Homo sapiens: one gene and its partners. The protein of the gene in region 4 interacts with the protein of the main gene of each other region in a pairwise test. Each region holds a gene or a part of one and is shown on either strand. Other genes may lie near its edges. The genes, in order: AGGF1, FRA10AC1, PPIL4, CHERP, CLK3, SNRNP27 and FIGN.

Region 1 (3,012 bases), on a different chromosome or scaffold from region 4:
CATATTTTGTGGAACTGAAAAGATAGAACATAAAATACTCTTAAATTAGCAGAGTATAGAATCATAGGACAAAAATGCAAACTGATTAAGAAGTTTTATTTCAATTTGAACTTTTTAATATGTAACATGTACAGAAAATTACACAAATTATAAGTATATAGCTCAATGATACATCATAAGATTAACATATTGCAGAATACACATTTCTTGGACAAGAAATAGGAAATTATCAGTAACCCCAGAAGCTTATTCTCCCTGTGCCCCACCTAATCACTGTCCTGCTGTCCTCCCGAAAGGTAATCACCATCCTAACAGCAATAGATTAATTTCACTTATTTTAAAATTTTAATGAAATGGAACAATTCAGTATTTATTTTGTGTCTATATTTTTTGTGTTCCACATTATTTTGTTAGGTATGGTTTATTTTTATTGCTGAATAATATTCTACTGTATCACTATACCACAATTTATCCATTTTAATCATTGCCAGACATCTGGATCATTTCTGATTTGTTGCTATTAGATTTGCTGGAAGAACATTGTTGTATGTGTGTTTTGGTGCACATGCACATGCTTTTCTAAGTAGGATATGTACCAGTGGAATTTGTGTGTCTTCAACTTTGTTAGGTAATGCCAAGCGGTTTTCTAAAGTAGTTGTACCAATTACTTTTAATTCATGAATTTATTATAAATGTGACCTAAAAGATCTTTTATAAATCAACTATCATTTTAATATTCCTTAAAGTGAAATTACTGATAGCAACAAAGGTCGGAAGATGTTGGAGAAGATGGGTTGGAAGAAAGGAGAGGGCCTGGGGAAGGATGGTGGAGGAATGAAAACGCCGGTAAGACTTGGATTTTCTTTTATTCATTTATTCCTAGAGCAGACATTTACCGTGTACATTAATGTGCCAAACGTTGCCTTAAGTGCTAAGAATATAGTAGAAAGCAAAAGGAGACATGATTACTGCCTTTGTGGCATTCACAATTACCAAATATATACATGTGCTTTGTTTTGTGTTTTATATTTTTAGAAAGCCTCTTTTTGAGTTTTTTTCCCTACATTAAAGCTAGGGTGAGAAGTGCTGTTTCCTGAGCCAAAGGTTCTTCTGTGTTTTAGAGTCATTTTTAATAACTGTCAGAGCACTCAAGAACAATCACAGTGTTAGTTTACAAACAGGTGGATTGTGTATGAGCTGAAAAATCTGTTTGGTTCAAGAATCAGAGCATGTAACATGAAATATAGAGAATAATCTCTGGAAAATGACATAGTGGTTTAATTAATGGTCCCATGGTTCGTAGGAGGTTTAGGTTATCTTTCACACAAACCTTAATAAGTAACCTGACTGTAGAACTTTCTGGATAATGAACTTAGTACCTAAAGAAATAATAGATGGATCAGTGTGAGTATATACCAGCTTTCTCATTTTTTTTGAGGTACAGTGGAAAGAACAAGGATTTTGTAGTCAGACCTAGGTTAGAATATGTGCTCTATCATTTACTAGCTATGTGGCTTTGGGCAAGTTTGGACTTTAGTTTTCTTATGAAAAAATGGGGATAAGAACTCTTTTTCAGGGTTGTCTTGAAGATAAAGCCCCTAAGCATTGTACCTTACATTAGGCACTCAGTAAATGGTAGCTTTGAATGTTCTTAAAATATTGAGAAGTGCTCCCCTCCTGTTATGAAAACAATCAAATTCTTTTTATGGTTATTAATGTTTAACCTGCTTGTTCACTTACTTAGATAAGGATAGGACAGTGGGTTTAAACATATCCATTGCCTTTATTTCTGGTTAGGGTGGAATGACATACTCTGCAGCATCTAAATGAAATTTGGTGATTGCTAGTTAAGGAGCACTCTATTTTCTGTAAAGTAGGCTGTACTTATTGACAAGGCAAGACAACATAGAAAAATGAATGTAAGTTCCATGTATAAAGGTATATATATTCCTGTATGTATTTGATGCATCTGACAGGTTTTTCTTTTGCATCAATCTTTAATAAATCAAAAAATTGTAGAGTCCTAAGTTGGACACAGCAGATTTCAATGTGTTTAGACTCTAAAATAAGTCCTCTGCTCAACTTTTGGTAACAGATCCAGCTTCAGCTTCGGCGAACACATGCAGGCTTGGGGACAGGCAAACCATCCTCATTTGAAGATGTTCACCTTCTCCAAAACAAGAACAAAAAAAACTGGGACAAAGCACGAGAGCGGTTTACTGAAAACTTCCCAGAAACTAAGCCTCAAAAAGATGACCCAGGGACCATGCCTTGGGTAAAAGGGACTTTAGAGTGAAGGCTAATCATAGAAAAAAAACCTCTAGTTTTTTTAAAAATAGAATTTGGAAACTTATTTTTTCTCCCCAAAAGAATCAGCAGCACAGGGGAACTATGTCACAGTTTACCTCTTCCTGATTCAGAAATGTGTATGGTTTGCAGCTTTTAAAAACCATTTTTTTAAAACTAATAAATAGTGACTGAACCAATTTATGCAGTAAATAGACTAAAGTTCACAGGGCACGGATGAGTTTATCAAACTTCGTTATTTTATCTTGTCATTTACAACATCCATATAAGCAACTAGCCATATAAGCAAAATTCATAGAACTACTAATGACTTAAGTGTACATCTGTTCTTGTCTCCATATATTCATGTAAGATGCACAACAAAAGAAACATCAGAAGTTTATAAAAATAAATCTGACTATATGCATCCTCATTTATTCCCTTTAGAACCTAGGTAAAAAATGTTGCGAAAACATGGGTAGTGGCGCATACATTTTGTTATCCTTGAAATAGCCTAAGTAATGTTATTGAAGAACTAATGAACAGGTAACATATTGTAGAAAATTAGTCTTTCATTGTTTTCTTCTGTGAAGAATCTGTTGCTATGTACTGTATATTCAGCATTTATATTTGGTTTGTTTCATAGCTAATGAGGTATTTAGATATGAACAACTGAATACATATTGAAATAGTGTGCTGGCTTTTGTAGTTTTGATAAAGACCATT
Region 2 (4,347 bases), on a different chromosome or scaffold from region 4:
TGAACGCTGTGGAGAATCCAGCAAAAGGAAAAAAAGGTAAGTAATTTTTTTTTATTGATCTATTTTTCACATCCTTTCTAGATTAATATGAAGTATAAATAAACAAGAGTGAAATTTTTGAATTCTGTTTACATGTGAAGACAATTGCTCTAGTGAATGAATTTTTGTTCATTAAGCTAATACATTGATTAAAAATTGGAGAACAATTGTGGGAAAAATAAAAATTAATTCTGCAAAGGGGTTTATTGAAAGGGAAAGAAGAGTTTCAGATTTCTGGAATCTTTTCAGAAATCAGTGAAACCTTTTCATTACATATATTTTTCATTCAACTGTCAAGGACTGTTTATTTGTAAATGTTGTAGCTCAGAAGGGGCTTGAATGGTGGTCTCTTGCCATTACTTGCCTTCAAAGTGAAGTTAATATGGAGGATGAAAGTATAATGCAGCACAGTTCTTACGCATACGTGAATGAGCAGACTAAGGTCACGGGAAGAAACTCAAGGAAGGTTTTTTTGAATTGCAAGAGACAAAAACTCTTAGCACATAAAGCCTGTGCGTTATAAGCAGGATACGTCTTGGTGGAGCTGCTGTGCGTAGGAGCATTGTTCTTAGCTTTCAGTGCATAGAAACTCAGTTTTATACTTTGACTCAGGAGTGGTTGACTGATGTATACTAACCAAACTTACACGGCTGTTGACTGATTTTTTTAAGCAAATGTATAGAAATTGGCTTATTATTTCACACTGAGAGCAATATATTAGGCATACTAACAGGTTCTGAACATTTTTATAGGATACTCAGTCTCTGCAATAAAGGATAGTACTAATTATAATAAATTACATTTTTGATGCTTTACATTTTCTAGATTTTTCATTCAAAAATACTACTTTGTAAGAATAGAATTTGAGCAAATCTAGTTGGATACTCTGCTCCAGGATTATATTCATCACTATAACTAGGGCTGACAGTCTATGGCAGGGTGTCCAGTCTTTTGGCTTTCCTGGGCCACATCGGAAGAAGAATTGTCTTGGGCCACGTACTACAGTGGAGCACACACAATTGTGAATCTGTTGGTTCACATTGTTGGCCTGAAGCAGTGCTGGGCCTGCGTAAAATACACTAATGATAGCCAATGAGGTTTAAAAAAATGTGAAAAAGTGTCTTAATGTTTTAAGAAAGTTTACAAATTTGTGTTGGGCCACATTCAAAGCCATCCTGGGCCACATGAGGCCCATGGGTTGGGCGAGCTGGATCTGTGGTTTGTGTTCTCTATAATCAGCCTTGCTTTTTGTGTATCATTAATTACCAAAAACTTCCTTATCACTATGTTACAGATAGAGAAATGAAGAAACAAAGAGATAAATAATTGAATCTTATTAAGATTAAGGTAGTAATTGACAGAATTAGGATTTGAATCAGGAAGCTAGGTGATATGACACTAGAGTCCATGCTTTTGTTAGTTTCATCTTCCCCGTGTTATAGGTATTAAAATAATGTTAAGGTATTAATTAAGCTATTTAAGGAAATGTAAAATATCTCATTAAAGATCAGTGAGTCTTCTTAAAGTTAAGACTTACATTCTTTAAAGTATATTCCAGTTATGAAAATATAAAGAATTAGAAAATAACCTTTGAAAAAAGTGAACTCTTATTTTCTTCTTAATATATCAGGACAGTTGAAGATGACTTACTGCTCCAAAAACCATTTCAGAAAGAAAAACATGGAAAGGTGGCCCATAAACAAGTTGCAGCAGAATTGCTGGATAGGTATGGTATTTCAGTGTCAATTCTATTTCTTGGTTTAAGTTGCTTCGGATTAGGGGATTTGATTATGTTAATTTGAATATAAACATTTTGAATTTTCTTAAAAAAATTTGTTTTAACAGGGAAGAAGCAAGAAATAGAAGGTTTCATCTCATAGCTATGGATGCTGTATCCTTTTTTTATTTCCAGATTTTTATAACTAGTAGAATATTTTAAAATCTGCTTTTTTGTTTTATAAAATCTTGTGAAGTCAAATAGGCTTTTTTATTTTTAAAGATAAGTATTTAGTGATGTAGGATTTTGCCATTTATACTTTTGGGTACAATTCTCTTTTACTAATATATAGGAAAGATTTAGAGACAAAAATAATAAAACATATTACTAGTACTCTATAAATAGGTTTATAAAGTACATGAATCTGCAAATATATTTTCCAAATTGTTTTTTCAAGCTTTCAACATTTCCTTTTCCTATACTTATCTTTAGTCTCATTTTAATTTATTCTCTTCCTACCTGGTTCTTTGCTATTTAAGGTCTCTATAAAACTTGTATTTAAAATTAGGTCTATCCAGTCTGTCCCTGGATCTAAGGAAAAAATAAAAATAAAATGAGGCCTGCCTGTGGACTGTCCTCAGGCCTGCCATGGCTTTAATTTTTAGGCATGACTTAAAGCTATCTTTAAGATAAACCCTGCTTCCTGGTTATAGCCATTTGTCAACTCAGTTTTTTAATAAGACTGGCTGATGACACTAACTGCTACGCTGGCCATCCATACTGCTGTTGAGAATATTGGAGAATTTAAGAGATACCAAGCAAAAACTGAAGTATTTTTGGGTATTTATTGCTGTGATCAGAATTGGGAGAAGGAGACAGTGTCAATTTGATACGCCCCCTACCTGTAATCATCTGTTTCACTGTGCTATTCCAATATTTTTCTTTTAAGTTATAGAAGTACCATTGTGTCACTAATTGATTTATTCTTCTTATCTCCTAACCCAATAGCTAGCTTTTCCATGGATCTCATCTGCCATTTGTTCCTTTAGCATTTAAACATTTGCTCTGCCTTCTCTGACACCTACTGCATTGGGGGCACCTAGTTATAGCCTGGTGAGAGTGAAAGTATGGGTACTCTTTTTTCTGGCATAGGAGGAGTTGGAGCCACAGTTTTTTTTGTTTGTTTGTTTTTTGTTTTGTGTGTGAGGATTTATTTTATTTTATTTTTCTTTATTTTATTTTATTACTTTAAATTCTGGGATACATGTGCAGAACGTGCAGGATTGTTACATAGGGTATACATGTACCATGGTGGTTTGCTGCACCTATCAACCCATCACCCTCACCCTTCCCCGCCCACCGGCTCCAGTGTGTGATGTTCCCCTCCCTGTGTCCATGTGTTCTCATTGTTCAGCTCCCATTTATGGGTGACAACATGTGGTGTTTGGTTTTCTGTTCCTGTGTTAGTTTGCTGAGGATGGTGGCTTCCAGCTTCATCCATGTCCCTGCAAAGGACATGATCTCATTCCTTTTTGTGGTTGCATAGTATTCCATGGTGTATATGTACCACATTTTCTTTATCTGGTCTATCATTGATGGACATTTGGATTGGTTCCATGTCTTTGCTATTGTGAATAGTGCTGCAATAAACATACATGTGCATGTATCTTTATAATAGAATGATTTATATTCCTTTTGGTATATACCCAGTAATGGGATTGCTGGATCAGATGTTATTTCTGGTTCTAGGTCCTTGAGGAATTGCCACATTGTCTTCAATAATGGTTGAACCATTTTACATTCCCACCAACAGTGTAAAAGTGTTCGTATTTCTCCACAGCCTTGCTAGCATCTGTTGTTTCCTGACTTTTTAATAATTGCGATTCTGACTGGGAACCACAGTTTTCTCTGGGTTGTTTGACAAGAGTAGAGTAGTTATTGTCTCAAAGTTGTCTTGCTAGGCTGACTCTTGGTCATTTGGTTAGAGAGAACAGCTTTTGTTGACGATTTTTTAGTCCGTGCCTGTTGGTGTTTCCGGGTTGTCACCTTCTTTACCTCCAATTCTAGGATACATGAGACAAAAAGAAAACCTAGGGAACTCGCTATCATGTCATACCATAGGTCTTCAGGAGGTCCCTAGCGGGGCGCCTTCTTCCTTCCACCTTTTAGAGTCTTTTTATGTTTGATATATAATGTATAAGGATTTTAGTTGTTATTAGTATGAGGAATAGGGAGAAGTACATCTTTGCCTACTCCATCTTCCCGGAAGCAAAAGTTACACCCACCACCTGTTCTTGTACATAAAATTATATTGGAATACAGCCATGCTTCATTTATATGTTGTCTTTGGCTGCTTTCATGCTAAAATGGCAGAACTGAGCATTTGCAACAGAGACCATATGGCTTGCAAAGCCTGAAATATTTACCATCTGGCCGTTTGCAGAAAATGTTTGCTGACCCCAGCTCTAATAGGTTACATGACTTGCCATGGTCATGTGACCAGTTAGTGGTAGATCAAGAGCTAGAATCCAGATCTCCAGGTATTTGGTTTTTCTGTCTCTCTCTTTTTTTTTTTTCCTGAAATATTAACT
Region 3 (4,792 bases), on a different chromosome or scaffold from region 4:
ATGGTAAAAAAAGTAGTTTTAAAAATTCCACAAGAGTTCAAAAGATTGTTTCTGGCTAGGGAAATTAGAAAACCTCAGGGAAGGTTAAGGCAAGCATTAAAAGAACTGGACTAGCAGAGAGTGAAGGGTGAGCATTTTAGGTCTGGAAGACTATGAAAAGGCCTGGAAGTGGAAATTTAAATGTTTTAGGGGAGGTCCAAAACACCAAAGTTCTGTAATAGTCTGGTATTACACAGTAATAGAGCATGAAAAGACTGGAGAGATAAGATGGGGCTGAGCTGTTGAAGAGTGCTGAATATCAGTCTTGCAGTTGTTTTTCTTGAATATATTTCTGGGCTTCATGTTTAACAGATAGGGGTGGTCCTTTTACTAGAAACAAAAATAATGAATTTAGGCAATGATCATCAATGGCTGCCAAAATCTTTAGGTCTTTCATCAAAATCCGATGGGAACAATTTATAAGCGCAACAAGGCCTTAACCCACTGACCAATTTTAACATCACAGAGCCAACCAGACATCAAGTGCCTCCTGAATGTGATGCAGCTGAAAGTACACACTATCTTATATGAAATATTCTTGCCAAAAACATTAAACTGGAACCTAATCAAGGCTCTGAAGCTAAAGAACAATTTATAGGAAACAGGGGACACAAAAATATGTTAACGCACCCAGTAAATAATCAGTCGAATCCAAACAAGAGAAATTCTACAAGACAAAGCACCCAGGTTGTTTCTCAAAATTTTTTCAAGGAAAAAAGGGGGAGAACCAATAGATTAAAACATATATGAGACATTTTAACCAATATATGGACTTTGGGTCCTAATTTAAATCACCATATTTTTTAGAAGTTTATGAGATAATAAGAAAGTTTAAATGATACTAAAAATTATTGCTAGTTTTTTCAAAGTGTGATAAGATCTGTGGTTCTGTTTTTTTATTCTTTTTTACAACTTTTTCTCTTTCCTTTAGTATTTTTCCCTTTTCCCTGTCAAGTTTTTTTTCTTTTTTAACCTGTCACTTATGTGGTACTTAAGCTCATAGTTCCATTTTTTCTTGTTTTTTTTAAAGAGACGTTATATTTTAGAAATACATACTGAAGTAATTACAGATTAAATAGATGCACTGGAGGTGGGGGTATTATAAATGAAGCAAGATTGGCTATGTGTTCACAGCTGTTAAACAAAGCTGGTCATGTGGACATGAGAGTTCATTTACATGATTCTCTCTACATCTGTGTTTTAAATTTTCTATAATAAAAAGTTAAAAAAGAAAAGGAAGAAAGAATGGAAGGTAGGTAAGTCTGGATATGTTGATCATAGATTGATAAGTGAGTATAAATATAGCAGGTACACATGTAAGCACATCTCCAGTCATATGCTTACAAATATGTACAGGGGGTGGACTTATTGTTATGGGCTTATCTTTGCAGACCCACTGCTTGTTAATTGGGTGGGGTAGCTCTACACCCCTTTATTTCCTCATAACTCTGGGAAAAGAGGCCCATTTATTTTGCCAGGTGCTACTCTACATGGGCAGAGCGTCAAAGGAACTCAAAGAAAAGCAAAATCAAGAGATAAAAAACAAAATTCCCTATGATATTCTTTGAAACACTCGATCCAGCCACTCGATCCAAGCTTACCCCAGTATTATGAGGCAACCAATTATTTTGTTTATGCCAGTTTGAGTTGGGTTTCTATCACTTGAACAAAGGGTCCTAACTAATACAACACATTTATATCCATTAGTCATCATAATGAACCTCTAGTGTGTGCCCTAAAAGTAGCAGACATTGTACTGGGTACTCAGGATATAGAGATGATAATTATGGTATAGTTCCTGCTCTCATTGGAGTTTACATTCTTGAGCGAGGGCACGCTTGTAAACAACACCAGGATAATAGGTAAATGTTAAAATAAAATGTGTCATGTGGTTTATAAAAGACCTAAGACACAGCAGAGGAACCCTCAGGTAACTCTGCTTAGAAAGGAGGGAGAGCTTCAAAGAAGAGATGATGCTTGATCTGAGATTTAGATAATAAGTAGTAAGTTTGCCAGAAGGACAATAGTGGAGAAGAATATTGTTTAGAAGAAACAGCAAAAGAATGGTAACAATGGTACGGGAGAGTTTGTAGTGTTTTCGCCAGGTGGAGAGGAGGGAGGAATAGCTGCGTGCGAGGGAAAGCGGAGCACGGCAGGAGGTAGTTATTGTACAATATTGCAACTTATTTCACCTTCTTTGATAGGCTCTGCATTCCATGTGGGTAGGACCCTGTTTGTAACTAATCTCTCCTGGTCTCAGTTTCTTCCTGACTCTGATACATTCTCCACACCGCTGCCTATTATCTTCTCAAAACAAGTATGCCATGCCTCAATCCTGCTTTTAAAGTCTTCAAGGACTCTGATCATCAGTAGGGCACACAAGACTATTCACGACTGACCTAGGCGTATCTGACCACACTCGAGTCTACCATTCCACGACTCACACCAGTCCTTCCAGCCACACCAAACTACTTGCCGTTTCCAGAAAATTCCAAACAAAGAAAGTCCAAGCTAAGAAAACCCTCATTCCCATTCATCTTTGAAAGAACTAGTTCAAGTGTTCTATATAGTATTCGCTAGCTTTGCTTCTTCCCACCCCCCACCAAAGAAGCCGCCCTCTTCTGGTTTCCGTGGCAACTTACACATTCTTCTACCATAACACATAGAAAACTAAAATGGGTTCCTGTGTCTACTTCCCCCAGTGGAAAAATCAGACCCTCGGGGGCAAGAAGCCAAGCCCAGGACTTAGCCCAGTGCCTCGAAGGCTCAGTCCACACTCCAGACAACCTCTTCCTCCTCCACCTAAGCGGTATGCCCACACTCGCTGCGCCAAGCACACCCTAACTGCCTTCATCAAGATTTAACCGATTACACACCAAGCAATAGTTCCTATGTTCCTCTCACGAGTAAACACAATAAAGGCACAAAAGCTATGGGTATTGTATGTGCAGCTCGAATCACACACACACACGCCCCACACACACACTCCCAAAGGCAATTAATGACCGCAAGCACCGTCCACCGGACTGGCCAACACAAAATACGGGAGAAGGGCTGCCAAGGCTCAAACGAATTCCCGTCACAAAAACTTTTCTAGCCAAGGCCGGTTAATAAAATAGCCCAGTCGCGGGCACCAGCAGCCCAGAAGCTCGAGCTCTAGCCAATCTCTGCCCTGGACTGCGCAGAGAAGGGAAAGTAGGGAGACAAGCTCGGGGGCCCCGGCGACAGGTGAGTGGGGCTCAAGCCTCACCACGCGGCCGTTCTTCGGTGTACAAGTCGATGACGACGTCGCCTAAAGTGGTCTCCAGTAGAACCGCCATGGCGCCCGCTCCTCCTCCGCTACAAACCCCGGGAGGAGGGGGGTGACAGGCGCAGGCCGACGGCGTCGTCTACGCCACGCGTCACCCTCGGCGCGACCCCTTTTGCGTCATCTCGCCGGCGCCGCCCCCGGTTCCGAGCAGTTCCTTCCGGTCGGCGTGCGGGCGCCGGGCTGCCCAGCTGACTTACGGATCGGGTTGGTCCCGCCCCCGGCGCGGCCGTTTTGAAAATCCTGGTCCGCCCTTGGCGATTTTGGTGGAAGCCTGTCCCTCAGAACGGTCTCAGTATAGTGTTTTGTGCCCCGTTTGTGTCCGTCTCAAGAGCAGAGCGGCCCTCCGCGCGGCCCTTTTATCCACCAGGGGGCGCCCGCGGCGGGATCTTCTCTCCACCTATTTGGGCGGACTCCTCCGGGTTTCCTCGTCAGTCTCCTTTTCGCAAAACAACTTTGGGCCTCTACTAGGGGTTTCCGATTCTAAGAACTAACATTTTGTTTTGTTTTCTGTTTTGAGACAGGGTCTCGCTCTGTTGCCCAGGCTGGAGTGCAGTGGCGCGATGTCGGCTCACTGCAACCTCCACCTCCCGGGCTCCAGCGATTTTCCTGTCTCAGCCTCCCAAGTGACCACAGGCGCGCGCCACCACGCCCGGCTAATTTTGTTCTTTTATTTTTTGTAGAGATGGCGGTCGGGGGAGGTGGTCTCACTATGTTGCTCAGACTGGTCTCAAACTCCTGAGCTCAAGGAGTTCGAACTCTTCCCGCCTTGGCCTCCCGAAGTGCTGAGATTACTGGCGTGAGCCACTGCGCCTGGCCAAAACTAACATTTTGCCATGCAAGTTTATTCCCCAGACACTCTTCTGGGCAAGCCTGTCACTCTTTCTTATGACATTTTACACATAATCTCCAATAACTTCACATCTGACGAAAAGCCAAAGCTTTTTTTTTTTTTTTTTTTTTTGAGACGGAGTCTCGCTCTGTCGCCCAGTCTAGAGTGCAGTGGCGCGATCTCGGCTCACTGCAAGCTCCGCCTCCCGGGTTCACCCCATTCTCCTGCCTCCGCCTCCCGAGTTGCTGGGGCTACAGGTGTCCGCCATCACGCCCGGCTAATTTTTTGTGTTTTTAGTAGAGACCGGGTTTCACCGTGTTAGCCAGGATGGTCTCGACCTCCTGACCTCGTGGATCCGCCCGCCTCCGCCTCCCAAAGTGCTGGGATTACAGGCTTGAGCCACCGCACCTGGCGGAAAAGCCAGAGCTTTTATAATGATTTACAAGATCCTCTCCTACCCCATCCTACGCCATCTTCTTATTCCTCTGAAGCCACAGTAGACAGTTTGCTATTCCCTGAACACTGCTGACATACTCCTGCCCCATGGCCTTTTCACTTGCCTTGGTTGAGGGACCTCTTCCTCCAGTTATTTGTATGGCTCCCATTCACCTCCT
Region 4 (4,347 bases):
GGGCGGGGGCCAGCGCGAGCCACCCTTCCGCATGCAGCGGCCCCCACACTTCCGGGGGCCCTTCCCGCCCCACCAGCAGCACCCGCAGTTCAACCAGCCTCCGCACCCCCACAACTTCAACCGCTTCCCGCCCCGCTTCATGCAGGACGACTTCCCGCCACGGCACCCCTTCGAGCGGCCGCCCTATCCCCACCGCTTCGACTACCCCCAGGGGGACTTCCCTGCCGGTGAGTGTACGGGCGCCTGGGTAGGGCCTGGCGGAGGCATCCACGGCTCGCCTGCCGAGCAGGCTGGTGGCGCTGCTTGTGGCCCTGCCATGCTCCTGAGTGCACAGTGACAGACACAGGGTCATGGGACGTCCGAGGAGCCCGGCCTGGGTTCTCAGGAAGTGGGGGCACAGACTCAGTTTTGCCGCCCTGATGAGGCCCGGCTGGCTGCAGATGAGGCAGAGCCAGTAGGAAAAGGTTCCTGCCGTGGGTGGGCGTGGCGAGGGCAGGGCGGGGCCTCGTTCTTTTTACTGCTGCTGCTTGTTTTTTGCATCAGTTTTCCCGTTGTATTAGTTCGTTTAAAAAATCAATACTTGGCGTGGTGTCGGGCGCCTATGGTCCTAGCTGCTCAGAAGGCTGAGGTTGCGGTGAGCTGTGATCGCACCACTGTACTCCACCCTGGGCGACAGACCGCTGTCTCAAAAAAAAAAAACAAAAAACTACTTTTCTTTTTTAAAAAAATTTTATTTTATTTTAAATAGAGATGGGGTCTTGCTATGTTGGCCAGGCTACTTTCAAACTCCTGAGCTCAAGCAGTCATCCCACCTCAGCCTCTAGAGTAGCTGGGTCTACAGATGTGAGCCACCATGCCTAGTATCTTTGTTATTGATTTTATTTCTAATCTTTTAGTACTTTTTTTTTTTTTTGAGACAGAGTCTCACCCTGTTGCCCAGGCTGGAGTGCAATGGCACAATCTCAGCTCACTGCAACCTCCGCCTCCCAGATTCAGATGATTCTCCTGCCTCAGCCTCCCGAGTAGCTGGGATTACAGGTGTGCGCCACCATGCCTGGCTAATTTTTTGTGTCTTTAGTAGAGACAGGGTTTCACCATGTTGCCCAGGCTGGTCTCGAACTCCTGACCTCAGGTGATCCGCCCGCCTCGGCCTCCCAAAGTGCCGGGATGAAAGGTGTGAGCCACCTCGCTTGGCCTTTTGTTGTTGTTGTTTGTTGTTTTTTTGAGACTGAGCCTCACTGTCACGCAGGCTGGAGTGCAGTGGCACAGTCTCGGCTCACTGCAGCCTCCTCTTGGGTTCAAGTGATTCTTCCACCTTGGCCTCCTCAGTAGCTGGGATTACAGGCATCAGTCACTATGCCCAGCTAATTTTTGTATTTTTAGTAGATGGGGTTTCGCCATGTTGGCCAGGCTGGTCTCAAACTCTGGGCCTCAAGTGATCTACCCGCCTTGGCCTCCCAAAGTGCTGAGATTACAGGCGTGAGCCACCATGCCCAGCCTTCTCTCTTTAAATACATTTCTGATTATAAATGCAGCTTGAAGACCGCTTGGCACATTTATTGCTTTTACTTTTTGGCTTGGGCTGACATGATAAGTCCCACAGCCTGGACGGCTTCAACAGCTGGAATGTATTGTCTTAAGGATCTGGGGGCTGGAGGTCCAAGGTGGAGGTGTGGCGGGTTCAGGTTAGTGTCTTGGAGGCCTGTCTCCTTGGCTCATAGGTGACCGTCTTCTCTCTACATGTCTGTGTCCTAATCTCTTATTATAACGGCAACAGTCACGTTGGATTCGGGCCACTATGGCTTCATTTTAACTCATTTGTGTCTTTGAAGGCTCTGTCTCCAAATACAGTTCCGTCCTGAGCTACTGGGGGCTGGGACCTCAGCGTATGGATTCGGAGGGTCACAACTTAGCCCTCACCGTGCAGTTTTGGGGTTTTGGGGTTCTCTTCTCTCAGCCTCAAGCTCCCTCGGCTGTGCCTATGGGTGCGGGACAGGCCCCTCGGAGCCTGGCTCCTCGGTGCCTTGCTGCCTGGTCTTAAGCAGTGAGAGAAGATGCTGGACAGGCTCCCAGGAGGGGTTCGTCTCCTGGCCCTTCACTGAGCCCCTCCCCTCCAGCACTTGTCGCCTGGGAGATCCTGACTGGCCTGTGGTCCTGAGGCAAGTCTCTGTTTTGCAGAAATGGGGCCCCCTCACCACCACCCTGGCCACCGCATGCCTCATCCTGGCATCAACGAGCACCCGCCTTGGGCTGGACCCCAGCACCCTGACTTCGGCCCTCCCCCCCATGGCTTCAACGGGCAGCCCCCACACATGCGGCGACAGGGCCCACCCCACATCAACCACGATGACCCCAGCCTGGTCCCCAATGTGCCCTACTTCGATCTCCCTGCTGGGCTGATGGCCCCCCTCGTGAAGGTAATGCCCCACAGTGGGCTCCAAGCTGAGCACGCTTACCATACTGGTCCCCGTTTCTCCTTGTGAAAAGTGAATGCACGGGACCGGGTGCCTTCCGGGGCTCCCCTTCATCTCCCACTCCCTAGGGACCCTGATCCGTCAGTGGGAGGTGCCGAACCGGAGTAGCACGGTGTGGCTGTGAGCGACACCATGTCTGCCCTGCCCTGCCCCTCCTATCCCTCCCACCACAGGGAGCTTCAGCCATGTGGGGCTAGCTAGGCTATGAGGCTCGAGTCCTCTCTTCGTCCTTCTTGGTCCAGGGCCTCAGAAGCACCTTGTCCCAGGGCTGCTGATGGAGGGAATGTCTTAGAAGGAGCCACCTGTGAGCTGTGCCTACCAAGCACACAGGGAGGGGGGTGGCCCTGGAGAAGCCGGGCAGGGCTGGCAGCAGCTGGTACCACTGTGGGATGGCCGGAGCATAGGGCAAGAGGTGAGGCAAGAAGGGGCCAGGTCTGGCCAGGCGTAGTGGCTCACACCTGTAATCCCAGCACTTTGGGAGGCCGAGGCGGGCGGATCACGAGGTCAGGAGATCGAGACCATCCTGGCTAACACGGTGAAACCCCGTCTCTATTAAAAAATACAAAAAATTAGCCAGGCGTGGTGGCAGACGCCTGTAGTCCCAGCTGCTCGGGAGGCTGAGGCAGGAGAATGGCATGAACCCGGGAGGCGGAGCTTGCACTGAGCCGAGATCACGCCACTACACTCCAGCCTGGGCGAGAGCAGGACTCCGTCTCAAAAAAAAAAAGGGGGGGTTGGGGAGGCCAGGGCCGGGGCTTGGGGCCTCCAAGGGCATGCTGGCCACTGCCACTTCCCACCCCCTCAGACACATCCACCTGAAGTCCAGGCAGACTTCACGGAGCCATGGGCAGCAGGGAGAGCTGCGGGCGGGGGCCCAGGCAAGCCAGGCAGGGCAGGGCCTCAACAGGAGGACAGAGACGGAGCAGAAGAAGGATACAGGCCAGGGGGCTCCAGGGCCGGGGCTGAGGCTGTTCTGAGCGGGGGCCCAGGGTAGGCATTGCAAGCAAAGGGTGACGTGAGGGGCCCGCTGCATGTCTGAATAAACCAGAGGGTGTTCAGGTCACCTGAGTTTGGAGACCATGTCCCCTGTGGGTGATTTTCTGAAGAGAGAACCCTGTGACTGTCATCAGCCTCAGAGCAGCTATGACCCACCATGGTTGGTGTGGCTGAGGTCCTACAAGAGAGTGGGATCCCCAAGAGGGAAGCATGAGGAGCTCTGGTGCCCAGGGTACCCTTGACACTGAACCTGGGCCCTGCCCTGACCCCACTCCTTGCAGACCCTGGGTGGGCCTGAGAGGGCTCTGCCCAGGCATGGTGACAGCTGGGGTTCTCTGCTGCAGCTGGAAGATCACGAGTACAAGCCTTTGGACCCTAAAGACATCCGCCTCCCACCCCCCATGCCGCCCAGCGAGAGGCTGCTGGCTGCAGTGGAGGCCTTCTACAGCCCCCCGTCCCACGACAGGCCCAGGAACAGGTAAGGGGCCCAGGTCAGTGGGGTGGGCGGGAGGCCTCTGTCCCCTCTCCCGGCTCCCTGCAACCACACCTTCTGTCCAGGCTAGAAAATGTGGCTGTCCCTCAGGAGAAACTGCCCTCCCCCCGCCTGAGTGACAAGTGTGTGTCACAGGCACAGCACACACGTGGCCCTCAATGAAGGGCGTTTTAATGGAGACACATCAGAAGAAGTTAGGGAAGGTGTGGCACGGCGGCACGTCTCAAGCAGCCGGCTGCCACAGGGCCCTCAGCCCACCCTTCCCAGTGGTCACCCCTCCTTCCTGTGCTGGGCTGCAGGCCTGTCCACCCATGAGTCAGTGTTCCTGTTTCCCAGTTCCACAGACCATGGGTCCCCACCACCTCAGCGGAACAGCAGGGTGGC
Region 5 (3,280 bases), on a different chromosome or scaffold from region 4:
GGTTCAACTTCCACGGTCACATGTGCATCGCCTTTGAGCTCCTGGGCAAGAACACCTTTGAGTTCCTGAAGGAGAATAACTTCCAGCCTTACCCCCTACCACATGTCCGGCACATGGCCTACCAGCTCTGCCACGCCCTTAGATGTAAGTGTCCACCCTCAAAAGAAGCATGGGCAGCCACATGCCTGCAGCCAAGTCATCTGGTTACTTGTTGTCCCCATTCATTCCAGCACGTTACTAACCATTCTCCTGGGCCTGAGGGACACCAGATCCCCTTTGGCGGAAAGGCCTGTCTTTGGGTGGGAATCTCAGTGTGAGGATGGAAAGGCTAGGGCTCCCTCCAGGGACCTCCTGGACCAGCCTCTCTACCCCCAGGCACTCAGGAAGAAAACAGAAACGAACTGCTCTGGAATTGGCCTAACCACCAACCCTGCCTCCCTGCTTCATGCATGGGATAAAAAGGTAGAAGCCTGACCTGACAGATAGCACCACAGGTCCTGCCCACATGGAGACCCTCGGTCTAACCCTGACTTGTCATCTCCCTGCCAGCCTGGAAAAGCATTATTTGGCAGTGCCAGGGCTCAGCGCAGTAGGATTTGCAATGGTTGCAGCAGTACAGAAAGGCTCCTTGGTGAAGTTGGTAGGCGTTGAGCTAGAATCGCTCAAGGTCACCCCGCATCGCTCCCCTACCCTGAGCACTGCTACTGTGATAGGCTGCAGGCCACTGGGGTGGGAAGCCCCACATGGATGAGAAGACAGGTGTCTTCCTCCTCCCACAGGATCTGCAAGATGGGACAGGGACAAGGATTCCAAGCAAGGGGAACAGCTTGGTGAGGCCTGGAGCCTGTTAACGGGCTGAGAATTGGCTCCAGTGGAGTAGACTGCCACTGGGGAGTGGTGGGCCACATAGTTGTGAGGGTCTTGAGTGCCAGATGGGATCCTTGAGCTGAAAAGTGACTACTAGCAAGAAGCCACTGTCAGAAGGGGCTGGAGGGGAAAGGCTTGCCTGCTTATGACTAGCAATGAGAGGCGGGGCTGTCTTCCTGGGTATGCGACCTGTGCACTCAGTCGCACAGGACCCTGTGCTTGATTTAATGTCCTTTTGCCACCACCTTAATATTCTTAGTAACTTGAACAGGGGACCTGCATTTTCATTTTGCAAAGGGCCCTGCAAATTATGTAGCTGGTGCAGGGAAGAGGGAACCACCTCGAGGCTGTTGCTGTAGCTCTGCTGAGAGACAGGTGAGGAGGCCTGGTCTCTGCAGAGGAGAGGTGGAGGGAGGTTTTTCGAATGGCAAATTTCTTTCCTACCCCCCTGCTAAAGTATCAGAACCCTCCAAGGCCTCAAGTACAGAGAACCCTTGAGAGGGAGGCCAGCACAGAGGCAGGCTGTAGTCCAGCTCCCTGCTGAGGTGGGGGTGTGAGGACCTCTGGCAGTTGCTGGCATTGGAAGAGGGGTCTGGCCTAGAGCTGGCAGGAGAGCCAGCTTCTCAGTGCCTACTTCCCCTTCTTTCCCTGCTACCTTAGTTCTGCATGAGAATCAGCTGACCCATACAGACTTGAAACCAGAGAACATCCTGTTTGTGAATTCTGAGTTTGAAACCCTCTACAATGAGCACAAGGTATTGGTGGGGGTAAGGGTGAGGCCCTGTTTCAGGGGTGGGTTACCCGCTGGTGCAGACTCCTGACCTGGCAGGCCTGCCTTGCCTTTCAGAGCTGTGAGGAGAAGTCAGTGAAGAACACCAGCATCCGAGTGGCTGACTTTGGCAGTGCCACATTTGACCATGAGCACCACACCACCATTGTGGCCACCCGTCACTATCGCCCGCCTGAGGTGATCCTTGGTGAGTGACTGTATGGCCTGTGACCTTGTCATACTGGACTGTTGTTGGGAGGGTATGAGCAGAGGCAGTGGCATGCCTGTCATTCTCTGCCACCCAGGGCAGGCAGAGTTTCTCAGACCAAGGGGCCAGTGTCATGAGACACAGGTGACTGACCTGGCTTTATCTGTCAGCCTTACTGAGAGAGGGCCTCGTACTGGGATTTGGGCAAGAGTCCTGCCAGCCGGTGTGGTGGCTGCCTTGTGACTTCCAGGCTGGAAGCATAAGGCCGGATCTCACAGCCTCTCCCCATCTTGGCTTGCAGAGCTGGGCTGGGCACAGCCCTGTGACGTCTGGAGCATTGGCTGCATTCTCTTTGAGTACTACCGGGGCTTCACACTCTTCCAGGTACAGCCACCCTGCATTGGTCCCCTACCCTGAGTACTGCTACTGTGATAGGCTGCAGGCCACTGGGGTGGGAAGCCCCACATGGATGAGAAGACAGGTGTCTTCCTCCTCCCACTAATCATCATGTGAGATTCAGACCCTTTAAGGATGTAGATGCTAAAGGGAAGGCAGAGGTCAGGGTAGCTGGAACACTCAGAGGAGTCTTATGCTAGGCCATCGAGGATGGAGGATGGGGTAGGAGGTGACCTGACCTTCTAGATAAGGGGCACAGATGACTAAAGGCATCGGGATGGGCTGGGACAGGGCATGTTCTGGGCAGGGAGTGAAGAGCTAACCAGAGAGAAATGTAGTCACAGCCCAGTCCACCTCCACCCACAAGGGCTGAGGAGCCTAGGCACAGGCTGGCAGGAGAAGCTGGGGCTGCCGCTTCATTGGTAGGTTTGCATGTCCTGGGGCAGTGAGGGCACTTGCCCATCTTTCTTGTTCCTTTTTCTCCTTGAAGGGGCCAGAGCTAGTACTGACCCCCTTGCACTGTCCCTAATCTTCCACAGACCCACGAAAACCGAGAGCACCTGGTGATGATGGAGAAGATCCTAGGGCCCATCCCATCACACATGATCCACCGTACCAGGTAAGGACCCCAGTAGCCCCCTCAGGGTTGGTATAGAGGCCTTTCTCTTCTTGGCTGTGGGTCAGCAGGGTACTGGATGTGGTGAGTCTTTGCTGGACAGTCCATGGTTCCGCAGGCTCCTAAAAGCCTTCCCTGTGTGCCCCTGCAGACCTGTTGCCCTGGTTCTGCTGCTGTCTTGGGAGCTGCTCTTCCCCACCTCCCACCAGAGGCTTGTCCCCTTACTACTCCCACACTTGACTCCACCCCCTTAATTTTCAGGAAGCAGAAATATTTCTACAAAGGGGGCCTAGTTTGGGATGAGAACAGCTCTGACGGCCGGTATGTGAAGGAGAACTGCAAACCTCTGAAGGTCAGTTTCTGGCTACCCCCAGCTGAACTCATGCCAAGGAGAGACCCCAGGCACTGGGCAGACATACAGCAG
Region 6 (4,347 bases), on a different chromosome or scaffold from region 4:
ATGTTAAGCCTTTTATAGTATTCATTGCATATGGTTTTGAGTTTTTTTTGGTTTTTTTTTTTTTGAGATAGAGTTTCATTCTTGTCACTCAGACTGGAGTGCAATGGCACAATCTTGGCTCACTGCAACCTCCGCCTCCTGGGTTTAAGCAATTCTTGTGCCTCAGCGTCCCAGAGTAGTTGGGATTACAGGCACCCGCCACTATGCCCGGCTAATTTTTGTATTTTTAGTAGAGACGGGTTCTCACCATGTTAGCCAGGCTGGTCTCAAACTCCTGACCTCAGGTGATCCTCCCGCCTCGGCCTCCCAAAGTGCTGGGATTATAGACGTGAACCACCGTGCCCAGCCTGAGATTTTGTTTTAATTGCACCCTAGCAAGTTGCTGGTTATCTATGGTGCTCCTGATATAGAACGATAGTTAAAAACATGAGAATATTCTATTTTGGAAGTGTCTTCAGAACTATATAGTGTCATGCCTGATATTAAAGGTAGTCCTTAATATGAAACCCAGGTTTTTTTTTAAAAGGTAATCCTGTCTAAAGGCTTCAAGGAGAGGACTTTTTTTTTGTACCATAAGTTACATTCTGTCCAAATGTAAGAGGAATTTTTTCATTAGACTCATCTTCAGCTAATTGTTTTGTGTGTTCTCTGCTAGTGAGGTGGAATGACTATTAATCTGTTACCACCTCTCTTTTTATTTATGTATATATTTGAAATGATAGAGAGGTCACAAAATTATTCTTTTTTGCAGAGGAAGACTTAGAGGGCAAAACAGAGGAAGAAATAGAAATGATGAAGTTAATGGGATTTGCCTCCTTTGACTCCACAAAAGTAAGTAAAACGTGCAACATTCTCATTTGAATTAATATGTTATGACTGTCCTATCTTTCCATGTTCTTTTCCATTTATACAAATTTATTTGGTTATAAGACAATAACTATCTGTTTGAAGGGCTTTGAGAATACAAAGGAGGAAACAGTGAACTGCCATTGGAATTCAGGGAGTGGTTGCCAGGGACGATGTTTGAATTAGATTTTAAAGGACAAGTAGAAGTGATCAGACAAAGAAGAGGAAGAAGATTATTTCAGGTAGAGGGAAGAGCTCATGAAAATGCCATGTAGGTGTAAAGGAGCATAGTGTATTGTGGGAATTTCAGATTCGACCAGGGATAAAGGGGTGCTGATGGGCTAGTGACTTAGGCTAGAAATAGAGGTAGGAGGCAAATCACAGAGGGCTTTTGATGCCCTTAGTCATGCTAAGGAATTCAGAGTTTATTCTTTTGGTGTTGAGGAGAGGAAGTAGTGATTTTTAAATAAGGGAGTGGCATGGTTATATGTGTGTTTTGGAATAATGACTCTGGGGGCAGCATGGAGGACAGATGGGAGGTGGGTTAGATTGAAGGCAGGGAGAACTGCTGATTTGTGCAAGTGAAAGATGATAAAGGCCTGAACTGAGTTGAGAATGATTCAGGAGCTGGGGGAAGTGGGAGTGAGTAGTTAGTAATGCCTCTCAGGTGTCAGGCTGGGACCCTGAGTGATACAGTTAACCCAGAACAGAGTTTCTGGAAGGGGAACTGCTGGGAAATGGAAGAACAAAATCCAGCTGCCAGATAGAGATGACATTGGGCAGCTGCATACTTGTCTCATAGCTTAGAAGTGGGGTGGATAGGGGAGGGAATGCTGTCTAGCCTTCATAATAGCAGAGAGATGAGGGAAGAGGAAAAAGAGGGAGGGATTATATAGAGGAGGGAGAGCATAGAGCGAGAGATGGGGGAAGAGAGAGATGGGTATAGAGAGAGGAAATGAAGAGAGGAGAGGGGATGGAGAGAGGGAGGGTGTGTGGAAAGAAAAACATATTTTTTAAAATCTCTTTTCTAGAATTTTAAGTCTTTCCATTTAGTTTTGCAAATGGAAATAGAGATGTTTGAGAAAAAGTTGTCAAAAATAATCCACTTTCCCAAGTCTTGTATTCCATTGAGTTGCTAATGGAATGGGGTAATCTCAGTGGCTGTAAGTTTCTTTCTAACTAATGTGACTGTGTAGGGCTCACATGTTTTAAAATGACAGTGTGTAACTTAGGAGTACTGAGGCATGACTGTTTTGAGGTGAGAAATTAAGAACAAGCTCTTGTTCTTGCAATGGTTATGTGAGCTCTGTTTTGGAATTTAATGAAGTTTATTTATCAGCTTTTTTCCCTTGAATGCCCTAAATTCTTATTTATTTTCCAAAGACTATTTTATAAATGAAAGTTTATTAAGATATATGTTGGGTGAAATGTAAGTTTATTAAGATATATGTTGGGTGAATTAAAATATGTCAAAAGTAAAGCAACTATAGTTTTATTGTCTTTAGAAGAATGGGGAGGGAACTTTTTCCCCAAAGAAAATGGAATTATTTTCTTTGTTTTTTGGTTTTCCTGTTGCTGGATGTTAGGTTTAAAGTTCCTGAAAGTCAGATCTAAGGGTGGTGCCACCCATCACTTAAATGTAGTCAGTGAAGAAGATGTTTGCTTATAAAGGAAAACTTAGGTGAAAAGTCATAGATCTTAAAAAAATTATGGAGTACCATCACACTAATTGATGTCAGTTTTTTAAAATGACATCTACAAGGATGTCAATTTAGTTTATATGCAGTTGGCTTCATGGCTATCAGTTATAACGTCAGCTCATTTGTGTTTTTAAGTAATGTGTGTCTTGTGATGTTTCATCATTGATCTATTGTGGGACCTCTTCATATGCCAGTATAGTCACCCATTTTCCTTTCTATTTGATTGTATTTTCATTTTTTTATTTGTATTATTTTTTATTTTAATTTTATTTTTTCGAGACAGAGTCTCGCTCTGTTGTCCAGGCTGGAGTGCAGCGGCGCAATCTCGGCTCACTGCTACCTCCGCCTCCTGGGTTCAACCGATTCTCCTGCCTTGGCCTCCCAAGTTGCTGGGATTACAGGCGCCTGCCACCACGCCTGGCTAATTTTCGTATTTTTAGTAGAGATGGGGTTTCGCCATATTGGCCAGGCTGGTCTCGAACTCTTGGCCTGAAGGGATCCACCTGCCTTGGCCTCCCAAAGTGCTAGGATTACAGGCGTGAGACATTGCGCCCGGCCTCATTTTTTAGTTTTTTAGAGACAGGGTCTTGTTTTGCCACCCATACTGGAGTACAGTGGTATGATCATGGCTCACTGCAGCCTGACCTCCTGGGCTGAAGCAATTTCCCTGCCTTAGCCTCTGGAGTAGCTGAGAGTAGGCACATGCCGCCACGCCAGGATAATGTTTTTATTTTTTGCAGAGATAGGGTCTTGCTGTGCTGCCTAGATTGGTCTTGAACTCATGGCCTCAAGAAATCCTCCTGCCTCAGTCCATTTTTTTTTTTTTATTTTTGAAGAGACAGAGTCTTCCTATGTTGTCCAGGCTGTACTCAAACTCCTTGGCTCAAGAAATCCTCTTGCCCCAGCCTCCCAAGTAGCTGGGACTGTAGCCTCACAGCAATGTGCTTGGCTTTTCCCTTTCATCTTATTAGATTGGTGGAAAAGTAATTACAGTTTTTGCCATTGAAAATAATGGCTAAAACTGCAATTACTTCAATAACATTTTTCTAGATGGTTTCAAAGTTTGGTTTTGTTTATTAATGGATAATTTTCTATGCCAGCATGTAAATAAATGAGGATAGGGCTAATAATATGCAATTCTGCAAATAGTTTCCAGAAATCAGTAAACCTTTAGGAATCGAACTTTGTAAAAAGGTTATCATCATTTACTTTTTTGTGCCCAAGACCAGTCTTTCTAAGTCATGCTTACTTCCTATTATAGGGAGTTCAAAATCATATACCTCACAAGTAATTTGTTCAGGACTTACCTTCCACCTCCAAAAAAATACATGAAAATAGGAATAGAAAAGTAAGACCAAATACATTTATTTTAGCCCCACTTCAAATATACTGTTCGTCTGTGTATGCCTTTTGGCCAGTGGGTCAGAATCGGTCTTTGCCCTGACACCAATATCTAATTAAGTACACTACACAGATAGGCTAATCTTGCATAAGTAGTAATGGGAGAGGGAGGAGGTGGGGGTCACTTGTATGTGTCACGACGTTAGCTGATGATACTCATCTAAGTCATTTTCTGAATATCTGGGAGTGCAGTGACCTAGGATGTGAGAATGCAAAGGTGACTCTCAGACATATCCCTCCATCAAGAAGCTTGCAGTCTCATAGGGAAAATAACTTTATGATGTACATCATGGTTTTATAGGGTAGAAAATAGAGGGTACTGGGCTGGGTGCAGTGGCTCATGCCTGTAATCCCAGCACTTTGGGAGGCCGAGGCGGGGGATCACGAGGTCAAGAGGTCA
Region 7 (4,347 bases), on a different chromosome or scaffold from region 4:
CACATTAATATTCTCTCCTTTTTATAAGGCTTGAAGTAAATCCCACGACACTAGAAGCATTTAGATACTGATTACTTGCGATTGGTTCCTGGTGATTTGCTCTTAATAATTTCCAGTTGAATTTAATGAAAGTATGATTCCTGAAATGCTGCTTCATTAAAATTGCAGCTTTTCCCCTTTAAGTGTGGTTTCGGTCATTTCACCCATTTTGCGGTGTGTTTTCCTCCCCCTTAAAAAGTAATGATTGAGAAAGCAGAAATAATTAAGAATACCACTTTAGTTCTCCCTGGAACTCATCCTCAGAGTTTCTCTGAGTGAAATGATGCAAGCTGCATTTCATCAGGATTTTATAATACTATTTTCCCATTCAATGAGATTATTTAATAATATATAAAGTTTTAAAACATAAATATGAATTTTGGGGGTAGTTGAGGGAAATTGAAGAAAGAATCTGTTGCATGTACAAGAGAACTGAGGTCTTTAGAATTTTTACTAATATGTATATACATATATTTAGGTTGATTAAGTTACACTGTGCAGCATTCAGACTTAATTTAACTGAGTTGTGATTTGCAAATGAATATCTACATGGATCCTTTTTAAAAATCAAAATGCAAATGAGTACAATTGCAGTAAAATATATTTGCAAATGAATCCTGTTGCTTTATTCATTTATTGTGTAATTACTGCAATCCTTCCCACCTTGTTTTCAGTATTTCTTAATCATTAAGTCGGAAGCATGACAGCAGTGCCAGCCCTGGCATGATTCTCTTTGACTAAAACCTTGTAAATTAACACAATTAGCACAGCATCATCCTGCTAATTAACTTCCAGTGTCTGGTGCAGTGGTTTTGCAAACAAGGAAGAGGGAGTCAGAAGGGAATCAACATGCCATTCTGTTACCAAACTGTGTGTTATGTTCAGTTTATCGCAGTAAGTCAGAGCCGGCCATGTCAGAAGCCAGAGTCAGGCAATGAAGAGCCACAGAGCTTGGAGGAAGAGCACAGAAGGGGGTAGAAACTGACAAAATAGACTGTAGTAATTCAGAAGGGGGTTGATGCCACAGATGCTTCATGTAGACCAGGCCTCCTCCTTATCAAGGCATCTCTGCCAGAGGGCACAAGACAGTTTGCAAAATTCACTTTGGGTAATACAAAAAAGATGAAGGAGAGATGCTTAATATAGCTGTACCAGAATAGGAAGTGTTAAACCAAGCAGAGATTAGACTGAGATGAGCCAGCAATGGGAAAAAGGAGAACAGGGTACCAGTCCTCTTCTGTAACTAACTGTATGTGAGACCTCGAGGGTACATTATAAATCGCTTTGGGCCCTGGTTTCCTAATCTGTGAAATAAAGTAATTTCTAAAGTCTCTTTACAATTTAAAATTCAAATTATTCTGACTGCTTAGTATTTTTTTCTTAAATGAGAAAATGCTCATTTTGTAGTTTGCTACATAGTCAACTTTGCTTCACTTAGTAACCCAGCAGATGATAGAATTACCCAGACCATCTCATTATCTACTTGTACTCCTCTAGCGTATGCCCTACGTGGTTTCCTATAGAAATTGAAAGAGTTAGAATCCAGAATCTCTCTCCATTCTTATCTTCCCTTTCCCCTCAGTTTCCTTTCTCTCTCTCTCTCTCTCTTTCTCTCTCATATATAATATATATATATATATATATGAAGATGTATAAGACAGGATGTGTATAAATACACACACACACACACACACACACACATTCTCCCCTCTTAGTACCTTGCAGGCTGTAAGGGGAGGAGGGATTATAAGAGAAGGAGGGAGAACGCTAGAAGACCGACAGACAAGTGATGCTTGTTTTTTTTTTCAGAGACTCAACAACAGAACTGAGAGGCAGAAAGGAGCCAGTTGTAATTCATACCGAGTTGTAGGCTTTGTGCGATGAAAGCGATGGAGCGCTGCCTGGGAGATTGCTTTGCTGCACTCCACGAAGCAGATTTGAAACTGTCGTGGACCACTTTAGATGAGAGTTGGATTATGGAATGACCTGCTATGTCTGTGTCATATTGTTCTGCGCAGGGAGCATTATACTGTGCTAACTAGGTGTTCAGTACCAAATAAGAGAGGTATCCTAGATGTGATCTGTCAGCTGTGTCTCATTTTTATATTGCTTAAAATGTAAAACAAACTGTGATGTGAACAGACAGAATAGCTAGATATTGTACATGTTAATACTGCCATGTGCAAGATATTTAAAATGTCTGCTTATTTTAAGAACCTATGATTGAATTCTAATTTGACAGGAATGTGTGTGTACATATATATGTGATTGTGTATGTGCGTATAGTAGGTAAGCTGATGGGCTTGACAGAAATAGATTTACTTATTCCTTACAAATGCAAAAAATATAGGTAACTACAGAGTTATATTTTAAACTCAGTGTGCTTTTTAAACAGGGCTGAAGTTTAGTCCATTTTAAAGAGTACTTATTATAGGGATCATAATAGGTATTATAAACAGTGTAGATCTTTTAAAGTATGCATATCATTAATGGAAAATAATAGGTAACAAAAGAAATTGGGGGAAAAGCTTTAAGAGTTCTGATGCCTATTTAAGTAAATTAACTCTTTTCCCCCCAAAATTCTTAGGCTTGAAGATGCAGTGGACGCCAGAGCATGCCCAGTGGCCAGAACAGCACTTTGACATCACCTCAACCACTCGGTCTCCTGCCCACAAAGTTGAAGCCTACAGAGGTCATCTGCAGCGCACCTATCAGTACGCCTGGGCGAATGATGACATATCTGCTCTGACTGCATCCAACCTACTAAAAAAATATGCAGAGAAGTATTCCGGCATTTTGGAAGGTCCTGTGGACCGACCCGTACTCAGCAACTATTCGGACACACCATCAGGACTAGTGAACGGTCGGAAAAATGAAAGTGAACCCTGGCAGCCTTCCTTGAATTCAGAAGCTGTTTATCCCATGAACTGTGTTCCGGATGTTATCACTGCCAGCAAAGCTGGAGTCAGTTCAGCCCTCCCTCCAGCAGATGTCTCTGCGAGTATAGGAAGCTCTCCTGGGGTAGCCAGCAACCTGACAGAACCTAGTTATTCAAGTAGTACCTGTGGAAGCCACACTGTACCCAGTCTTCATGCAGGGCTCCCATCTCAGGAATATGCCCCAGGATACAACGGATCATATTTGCATTCTACTTATAGTAGCCAGCCAGCACCTGCACTTCCTTCACCTCATCCGTCTCCTTTGCATAGCTCTGGGCTACTACAGCCCCCACCACCACCTCCTCCGCCACCAGCCTTGGTCCCAGGCTACAATGGGACTTCTAACCTCTCCAGTTACAGCTATCCGTCTGCTAGCTATCCTCCTCAGACTGCTGTGGGGTCTGGGTACAGCCCTGGGGGGGCACCGCCTCCGCCTTCAGCGTACCTGCCTTCAGGAATTCCTGCTCCCACCCCCCTACCCCCCACCACTGTTCCTGGCTACACCTACCAGGGCCATGGTTTGACACCTATTGCACCGTCGGCTCTGACAAACAGTTCAGCAAGTTCTCTCAAAAGGAAAGCTTTCTACATGGCAGGGCAAGGAGATATGGACTCCAGTTATGGAAATTACAGCTATGGCCAACAGAGATCTACACAGAGTCCTATGTACAGAATGCCCGACAACAGCATTTCAAACACAAATCGGGGGAATGGCTTTGACAGAAGTGCTGAAACATCATCCTTAGCATTTAAGCCAACGAAGCAGCTAATGTCCTCTGAACAGCAAAGGAAATTCAGCAGCCAGTCCAGTAGGGCTCTGACCCCTCCTTCCTACAGTACTGCTAAAAATTCATTGGGATCAAGATCCAGTGAATCCTTTGGGAAGTACACATCGCCAGTAATGAGTGAGCATGGGGACGAGCACAGGCAGCTCCTCTCTCACCCAATGCAAGGCCCTGGACTCCGTGCAGCTACCTCATCCAACCACTCTGTGGACGAGCAACTGAAGAATACTGACACGCACCTCATCGACCTGGTAACCAATGAGATTATCACCCAAGGACCTCCAGTGGACTGGAATGACATTGCTGGTCTCGACCTGGTGAAGGCTGTCATTAAAGAGGAGGTTTTATGGCCAGTGTTGAGGTCAGACGCGTTCAGTGGACTGACGGCCTTACCTCGGAGCATCCTTTTATTTGGACCTCGGGGGACAGGCAAAACATTATTGGGCAGATGCATCGCTAGTCAGCTGGGGGCCACATTTTTCAAAATTGCCGGTTCTGGACTAGTCGCCAAGTGGTTAGGAGAAGCAGAGAAAATTATCCATGCCTCTTTTCTTGTGGCCAGGTGTCGCCAGCCCTCGGTGATT

The links.
Region 1: the proteins of CHERP (region 4) and AGGF1 interact in a two-hybrid assay, tested with the Homo sapiens proteins (one large-scale study listed by BioGRID and IntAct).
Region 2: the proteins of CHERP (region 4) and FRA10AC1 interact in a two-hybrid assay, tested with the Homo sapiens proteins (one large-scale study listed by BioGRID and IntAct).
Region 3: the proteins of CHERP (region 4) and PPIL4 interact in a two-hybrid assay, tested with the Homo sapiens proteins (one large-scale study listed by BioGRID and IntAct).
Region 5: the proteins of CHERP (region 4) and CLK3 interact in binary tests that used the Homo sapiens proteins (3 or more experiments, as listed by UniProt).
Region 6: the proteins of CHERP (region 4) and SNRNP27 interact in a two-hybrid assay, tested with the Homo sapiens proteins (one large-scale study listed by BioGRID and IntAct).
Region 7: the proteins of CHERP (region 4) and FIGN interact in binary tests that used the Homo sapiens proteins (3 or more experiments, as listed by UniProt).

The regions. Positions count from the first base shown.
Region 1 is NC_000005.10:77,060,957-77,063,968, forward strand, and holds part of AGGF1 (angiogenic factor with G patch and FHA domains 1), read left to right. Parts: intron 1-746; coding exon 747-846; intron 847-2,095; coding exon 2,096-2,296; 3' UTR 2,297-3,012. UniProt on the Homo sapiens protein: Promotes angiogenesis and the proliferation of endothelial cells. Able to bind to endothelial cells and promote cell proliferation, suggesting that it may act in an autocrine fashion.
Region 2 is NC_000010.11:93,695,719-93,700,065, reverse strand, and holds part of FRA10AC1 (protein FRA10AC1), read left to right. Parts: coding exon 1-36; intron 37-1,669; coding exon 1,670-1,765; intron 1,766-1,884; coding exon 1,885-1,930; intron 1,931-4,347. UniProt on the Homo sapiens protein: May be involved in pre-mRNA splicing.
Region 3 is NC_000006.12:149,542,647-149,547,438, forward strand, and holds the start of PPIL4 (peptidyl-prolyl cis-trans isomerase-like 4), read right to left. Parts: upstream 3,398-4,792; 5' UTR 3,360-3,397; coding exon 3,290-3,359; intron 1-3,289. UniProt on the Homo sapiens protein: PPIases accelerate the folding of proteins. It catalyzes the cis-trans isomerization of proline imidic peptide bonds in oligopeptides.
Region 4 is NC_000019.10:16,521,122-16,525,468, reverse strand, and holds part of CHERP (calcium homeostasis endoplasmic reticulum protein), read left to right. Parts: coding exon 1-227; intron 228-2,178; coding exon 2,179-2,417; intron 2,418-3,814; coding exon 3,815-3,948; intron 3,949-4,116; exon of another isoform or gene 4,117-4,347. UniProt on the Homo sapiens protein: Involved in calcium homeostasis, growth and proliferation.
Region 5 is NC_000015.10:74,625,825-74,629,104, forward strand, and holds part of CLK3 (dual specificity protein kinase CLK3), read left to right. Parts: coding exon 1-144; intron 145-1,527; coding exon 1,528-1,622; intron 1,623-1,714; coding exon 1,715-1,844; intron 1,845-2,145; coding exon 2,146-2,228; intron 2,229-2,779; coding exon 2,780-2,859; intron 2,860-3,117; coding exon 3,118-3,208; intron 3,209-3,280. UniProt on the Homo sapiens protein: Dual specificity kinase acting on both serine/threonine and tyrosine-containing substrates. Phosphorylates serine- and arginine-rich (SR) proteins of the spliceosomal complex.
Region 6 is NC_000002.12:69,896,626-69,900,972, forward strand, and holds part of SNRNP27 (U4/U6.U5 small nuclear ribonucleoprotein 27 kDa protein), read left to right. Parts: intron 1-751; coding exon 752-831; intron 832-4,347. UniProt on the Homo sapiens protein: May play a role in mRNA splicing.
Region 7 is NC_000002.12:163,610,086-163,614,432, reverse strand, and holds part of FIGN (fidgetin), read left to right. Parts: intron 1-1,848; exon of another isoform or gene 1,849-2,001; coding exon of another isoform or gene 2,002-2,104; intron 2,105-2,626; coding exon 2,627-4,347.